2 linked regions of the Homo sapiens genome follow. The protein of the gene in region 2 purifies or fractionates together with the protein of the main gene of each other region. This does not show direct contact. Each region holds a gene or a part of one and is shown on either strand. Other genes may lie near its edges.

What was found. The genes of interacting proteins can lie anywhere in the genome.
Region 1: the proteins of KRT32 (region 2) and SULF2 purify together in Homo sapiens (co-immunoprecipitation; one large-scale study listed by IntAct). This does not show direct contact.

What each region holds. Positions count from the first base shown.
Region 1 is NC_000020.11:47,778,919-47,782,566, forward strand, and holds part of SULF2 (extracellular sulfatase Sulf-2 isoform a precursor), read right to left. Parts: intron 737-3,648; exon of another isoform or gene 1-736. UniProt on the Homo sapiens protein: Exhibits arylsulfatase activity and highly specific endoglucosamine-6-sulfatase activity. It can remove sulfate from the C-6 position of glucosamine within specific subregions of intact heparin.
Region 2 is NC_000017.11:41,465,257-41,469,004, reverse strand, and holds the start of KRT32 (keratin, type I cuticular Ha2), read left to right. Parts: upstream 1-1,618; 5' UTR 1,619-1,679; coding exon 1,680-2,147; intron 2,148-2,828; coding exon 2,829-2,911; intron 2,912-3,075; coding exon 3,076-3,232; exon of another isoform or gene 3,233-3,748.

The DNA.
Region 1 (3,648 bases), on a different chromosome or scaffold from region 2:
TCAATATGCCGATAACTCCCAAACTTAGGTTGCCAGCCCCGACCGGCTGCAGACATCCACGTTCACCACCCACTGAGCTTTCAGACATCCAGGTGGGGTTCATCTCAAACCCAACATTTCCACGTCGGAATTCCAGATCACTCCTCCTCCCCAAAACCTTCTCTCCTATCTTCCCTATTTAGCAATCACCACGCACCAGGCTGCCTAGTCACCTTTGACTCCTTGGCAGGATACATCATGAATATTTGGGCTGAATCATTTTTCACTGTGGGGTCATCCCGTACATTGCAGGTTAAGCAGCATCCCTGGCCTCTACCCTCTAGATGCCAGTAGCAACCCTTCCCCAGTTGGGACAACCTATACTGTCTCCGGATAGTGTTAAAATGTTTTCTGGGTGTCAAAATCACCCTCGGTTGAGAATCAAAGCCCTTTCCCTCACTCTGTAATCCAATCCACTAGGAAGTCCTGTGGGCCCTACCTCCAAAATACATCTCCAATCCCCATTTCACTCCATCTCCATTGATACCACCACGGTCCAAGCCACTCTCGGGCCCTCTCTGTTGCCTAACAGTCCCGGTGATACCACTTCCATCTGCACAGCACGCCTCTCACAGGAGCCAGCAGGATCTTCTTGAAACACAAATCATATCATTCTCTGACTTAAAACCCTCCAATGGTTCTCCATTTTATTTTTTAATTTATTTTTGAGATGGAGTCTTGCTCTGTCACTCAGGCTAGAGTGCAATGGCACAATCTCAGCTCACTGCAACCTCCACCTCCTGGGTTCAAACGATTCTCCTGCTGCAGCCTCCCGAGTAACTGGGATTACAGGTGTGCGCCACCGTGCCTGGCTAATTTTTGTATTTTTAGTAGAGATGGGGTTTCACCATGTTGGCCAGGCTAGTCTTGAACTCCTGACCTCAGGTGATCCACCCGCCTTGGCCTCCCAAAGTGTTGCGATTACAGGCATAAGCCACCGCGTCCAGACAGTTATCCATTTTATTTAAAATAAAGTCTAAAATTTCTTAGCATGGCCTGTATTTCTCATCTCTGACGTGCCCTCCCCCACTTACTCCTGACCCTCTACCCTAGTTGACTTTTTTTTTTTTTTTTTTTGAGACAGAGTCTGACTCTGTTGCCCAGGCTGGAATGCAGAAGTGTGATCCCGGCTCACAGCAACCCCTGCCTCCCGGGTTCAAGTGATTCTCCTGTCTCAGCCTCCCAAATAGCTGGGACTACAGGCACGTGCCACCACACCTGGCTAATGTTTGTATTTTTAGCAGAGATGAGGTTTCACCGTGTTGGTCAGGCTGGTCTTGAACTCCTGACCTCCAGTGATCTAACTGCCTCAGCCTCCCAAAGTGCTGAGATTTCAGGCGTGAGCCACCACGCCTGGCCTACCCCACTTGACTTCTATTTGTGTTTGGGGCAGGTGTCTTGGACAGGCCCCTCCCACCGCCTCTGGGCCTTTGCACTAGCTGTTCCTTCTACCTGGCATGCTCTTCCCCCAGATCTTTCCAAGGCGGACTCCTTCCTAAAATCTAGGTCACAGTTCAAAGGTCACATCCTCACAGAGGCCTCCCTGACAGCCTGCCTAAAGTTGCCTCCCACCCCATCACATCATGCAGTCATTTTTCTTTTAAATTTTTTTTTGAGACTGAGTCTCACTTTGTTGCCCAGGCTGGAGTGCAGTAGTGCGATCTCAGCTCACTGCAACCTCCGACTCCTGGGTTCAAGCGATTCTGGTGCCTCAGCCTCCTGTGTAGCTGGAATTACAGGCAAGCACCATCACACCTGGCTAATTTTTGTATTTTTAGTAGAGAGAGGGTTTTGCCATGTTGGCCAGGCTGGTCTCAAACTCCTGACCTCAAGGGATCCTCCCACCTCGGCCTCTCAAAGTGCTGGGATTATAGGCATGAGCCAGCACGCCAGGCCTAGAGCATTTTCCCCGCCTTCTGACAGCCCCTGCATTAGGCAGGAAGACAAAGAGGCCCACGCTCCAGAGCTCTCTTCGCCAAACCCTCCTGCTGATATAGAATATACACATGACATATTGGTCATGCCCCCCAGCATCCAGGACCCTCCCTAGAAGTTTGATTCAACAGGATCTGGTCTTTGCCTTTTTAAACAAATACAGCCAGATGATTCTCATGGTGGGAGGTTAGACAAACACTGCCCCTGGCCCCCCGAAAGCACAGGATCAAGGCCAGGCCCCATCCTTCAGACAGTAAGGCAGAAAAGTCAGGCCTTTGATGCCTCCTGGCCCTGGTGGAAGGGAGAGGCATTGCCCAGGCAGCGTGTTTCCCCAGTCTCCACCTTGGCCAAAATGAAGATGGGTCCATCTGGCCAGCATTGCTCACATTAGTGGCCCATCATCGCAGGCACTGGCCATCTGCCTCTCCAGCAACCGGGCTTCCCTTTCACTGGGGACTCCCCGTGCTGTTTTATTCCAGGCTTTGGGGTCTCAGCAGTCAGCCTCCATCCAGCTCCAGGGAGAGGCCTGTGAGCCTGGCTTAAGCCAATTGTTGGCAACTCATTTCCTTAGCCAGTGACTGGTTTGGACAAAAAACAGTCCAATCAGAGGGAACCATGGGGCTCAGGTGTGCATTGCCAGATCAGAGGCTTGTTCTTTCCTTTTGGGCTTAAACCAGAGGGGATGAGACCCCTCTGCTCCATGACATCTGTCCTGACACCTAAGTTATGGTAACAGTCAATGCCTACTGAAGGCTCACCTGGGTCAGACGCCCTGCTAAGCACTTGACATTGATCATCTCATTTCATGCTTACCACAAGCAGGAGACAGGTGCTATGATCATCATCATTTGTTGGATGTGAACATCAAGGCACAGAAAGGTTAAGTAGCATGCCCCAGATCCCACTGCTGGGCAGGGAGCCAGGCAGTCTGGCTCTCCTAGCCACGGTGCCCACAGCTGCCAGGGACTGCCCGCCCCAGAGCTGGAGAGACATCAGCCTCATGGAAGGCAGAGGAGCGGTGGATAGGAATGGATTCTCATTACAAAATCTGAGCTGTGGGTCCAGCTGTGTCTGAAGCTAGAGTTAGTCACCTTAAGACTTTTGGTTATGAAAACCAGTAAGTCCACTTCTTTTCTCCTTAAGCTGGCTTGAGTTTTTTTCTTCTCTTTTTCCGTTGCTTGCAAGAGAAAGGAACCTGATTACTTTACAGTTCTTCTAGGCAAGTACCCCTAACTGATACTCCATTTGCAACTTGCACACAGCAGCTGCTCAGTAAACACCAGCAGATACGGATGGACTGCTCTCCCTTCCGGTCCATTCACTGCTGGATCTGTACCCTGACACCCAACTGTGGCCAGCCCAGCGCTTCTTCCCCTTTAGGCTCCAAGTGAGGCCTCGTTCCCTAGCAACCACCCCAATTAGGCAACCATGCCATTTATCGGGATGCCAATTAATTATAACGATCTTAATGCCCTCCCAATTAGACAGTGCCTTCAATCCGGCTGGGCCAGGGCTGTCTGTAGATCTCCACCAAGGCCCATTCCAAGGAGGCCCAGAGAAAGCAGGTTTCAGGGAGGGCCCCCTCACCTGCAGATCAGCATTGAGAGAGGCCCCCATCTTCCACATCCGCCCAGGCCTGACACAGAGCACCCTGGCACCACCCCCAGGGCCAGG
Region 2 (3,748 bases):
CCTTGTAGTTGGTATTGCCATCACACCTCCTTCCATCTGATGCTATAATCTTCTCTAAATAGGTAATCCAGACAAGGTACTGGAATTTGTAGTTGTTGCAGAGAATCAAATTGTGAGAGTATTTGATCTGACCCCCTCGATTGGCATGAAGAAACTGAGGTCTGGAGAGACAAAATTACTTTCCCAAGGCCAAATGGCAAGTCAGAGGCAGTATATCTACGCTCTCCTTTTCTTATGCAATGAATGAGCTGGGTGGCATTTTCCCTTTCCTGTTCTTGTACTGACATTTCTGGGAATATGTGAAACATAAGGCAAGTACTTATACCCCAAAATTATATCAAGAAGATTACTGAATAAAAAAGTGGCTATATAGCACACACATACTAAATGTGAAGCTCACAGCTTTTGCAGCCAGGACTGAAAACCACTGCTCTAGCATGTTGCCTTCTTAAGTGAATGCCCAGGGCTTCTATAGTTGGGCAAATATGCTCCCTGTCTCCTGGCTTAGCTCATTCCAGGGCTATAGAACATCCTTTCCCAAGGGAGTGGATTCACACTGCTTCCATAGTCTGAGATCCTGAAGTGAGCCTTCCCCATCTGCCACAACAGAAAGTAAAAGTAGAACCTGTTCCAACTATTCTCAGTCTGTTCAACAAACAATTATTGAGCACTTGACAATTGTGTATATGGTGCAGTGATAATTGAATGGATGGTCCAGAGGGGGTCAAGACAGAGCAGCTGCCACCTGGAGATGTTCATGATATGGACTTTTCCAAGAGGAAGAGACCAACTGGAAAGATGTACCTGATTCTTAGGCTTCTGTTTGGGTCTTTTTTTTTTTTTTTTTTTTGCCTTTTGAAGGGGTGCAGCATTCCTGGAGGTACTGCAATACCAGGTCAACATGTAGAGTGAACAGAGCAAGCTCTTATTCCATCTCCCTGCTCCCAAAATCCATTTAATATGTTGTCCTCAGATGGAGGACGTATCAGATATTAAGACGATAAGAACAGATACCACACTTGATCTTAGCCAAAAGGCTGAGAAGTGATGCTGCCTATGTCTTGAGTTCATTCTCTCCCCACTGATATTATTTTCTTCCCCTTGGCAGGAAGATGATGTCTGTTAGGAAGCCTCTGAGGTTCCTGTTCCTTTCTGCTGGATTTATGCCGCTGCCAGCATCGGAGCAGTTTCTACCACCCACACATTTCCTTGTTAAATAGCCAGGCCTCTTCCCATGGGGAATGCTTTCATTAAAAGAGGCAGCCACTGCTGCACAGACCTGCAGGCTTCTCAGGGCTAGAGCAGGCGGGGGTGCAGTGGGCAAAGCCAGTGGAGGCACAGGCTGGGTTGTGGCAGTCTCCTGGAGGGCCTGCCCTAGTAATGAGGGCCCAGGCATGCGGCTGACCCTTTGAAGATGTGTCCTGAAGCTCTCTCATGGTGATCAATGACAGGAACCCAGACTCCTGCTTTAGCCAAATGATAAGTTTGGCCTCTTTTATTGGAAACCAAATTACAAATTAATTAGCAGCTTCCTCTGGGGCTGGGTGTGAACATCAACACCACCCAATGATGAATTTCTATCATGAGCCCCCTCACTGCAAGGGCATAAAATGGCCCGGGCGGCATGGGGTCTGTAGACATCCAGGTAGCTGTGGCTGAGGAGAAAGGGCCTCTCCAACATGACATCCTCCTGCTGTGTCACCAACAACTTGCAAGCCTCTCTCAAGAGCTGCCCCCGGCCTGCCTCGGTCTGTTCCAGCGGCGTGAACTGCCGGCCTGAGCTGTGCCTGGGCTATGTCTGCCAGCCCATGGCATGCCTGCCTTCGGTCTGCCTGCCCACCACCTTCCGGCCAGCCAGCTGCCTCTCCAAAACCTATCTATCCAGTTCCTGCCAGGCAGCCAGTGGCATCTCCGGCTCCATGGGCCCCGGCAGCTGGTACAGCGAAGGGGCCTTCAATGGCAATGAGAAGGAAACCATGCAGTTCCTTAACGACCGCCTGGCCAGCTACCTGACGAGGGTGCGGCAGCTGGAGCAGGAGAATGCGGAGCTGGAGAGCAGGATCCAAGAGGCCTCTCACTCCCAGGTGCTCACCATGACTCCTGACTACCAGTCTCATTTCAGGACCATTGAGGAGCTCCAGCAGAAGGTGAGGGCAGCGGTGAGGTGAATAGGCTCTCTGGGAAGGGAACTGGACTAGCTGGCATTCCAGATTGGAATCTCGTTAGCTTATTAAGCTATGTTCAGGACAAAGAGACTTCCCTAGGGCATAGGGTTATTTTATAATTTGAGCACTCAGCCTGAGGCTTTCATGTGGAGAGATCTGGGATCTAGTCTCAGTTCTACCATTGCCTCATTGCATGACTTTGGGGGTCCCATCCCTTCCCCAGGCCTCAGTTTTCTCATCTGTAAAACAGGGATAATAATGGTCGTTATCTAATGGGGTTGTCAAAAGGATTTGATGAGATGATGCAGGTCAAGTGCTTGGAACAGCCCCTGGTCCACGGTAAGTTTTCAGTAAATGTCAAAGACCCTTCTAACTGTCACATGAGTGACTTCAGACATGAGATTCTTCCCTTCCACATTGCTTGGCACATCCAAAATGGGGAATTTGAATTTACGAAGCTTCAGGTTCTTAAAAAATACATCTCAAGTTCTCCAAGGACTAGCAATTCGCTAAATATCTCCCAGAGTTCCAGGGAAGAGGACCTTCTGCAGGGATGGCTGCAGGGCTGCTGGATCCTACCTTTGCTGCTGTCTTCTCTTCATTTGGGTTCTTCTTGCTTCGTCTCATCCTGAACTAACCCTCTCCATGTGCCTTGGCCTACAGATTCTGTGTACCAAGGCAGAGAATGCCAGGATGGTTGTGAACATTGATAATGCCAAACTGGCTGCCGATGACTTCAGGGCCAAGTGAGTTCAGTCGGGGGGCTGGAGCTGGGGAGGACCTGTCCTCATAGGCTCTGGGGCAACTTTCCATTAGTTTCACGGAGGGTTGGAAAGTGCCGGCAGTTTAAGGCCTTCCCTGAGTTCTGCATTCTGTTTCACCCTTGGTTGCTGACCCTGTCCTTGTGCAGGTACGAGGCAGAGCTGGCCATGCGGCAGCTGGTGGAGGCCGACATCAATGGCCTGCGCAGGATCCTGGATGATCTCACTCTGTGCAAGGCTGACCTGGAGGCCCAGGTTGAGTCCCTGAAGGAGGAGCTGATGTGCCTCAAAAAGAACCATGAGGAGGTGAGGCTGGAAGTCCCGCTGAAGTGGCCCCGGGAAGCAGAGGGGGAGGAACGTGGGGTATGGGGTTGGATAGGCGTGGGTTGAAATTCCCAAGCCTGCCACATGTTGTTTTAGTGACTTTGCCCAATTTATGGAATCTTCCTGAGCCTCCTCTTCTGTAAAATGGGGACAACATGATCACGCAGGGTTATTGTGAGGATTTAATGGACAGGATATGGATCATGGAAATCCCCAAGGCATGGGTATGAAACACCTGCCACTTGGTCAACTCTCAGAAGTGTAGCCCCCTTCCCTTCTGCATTTCCTGGGCTAGTGTGACTGCCAAGCACTCACTAGTGGCAACTGCATTTTTTTCTCTCGAGAGCCACACAGCAGAGGTAGAGTGGTGCAGTGGTGCCGGGGTGAGTTATGTTCCAGATCTCACGTTGAATGGCCTGTCCATCTCTGCCTGGCTCAACTCTCAGAAGCAGTCCCATCTCTTCTGAGAGGGAGTACAGCTGCAGTGGTCTCCTCTTT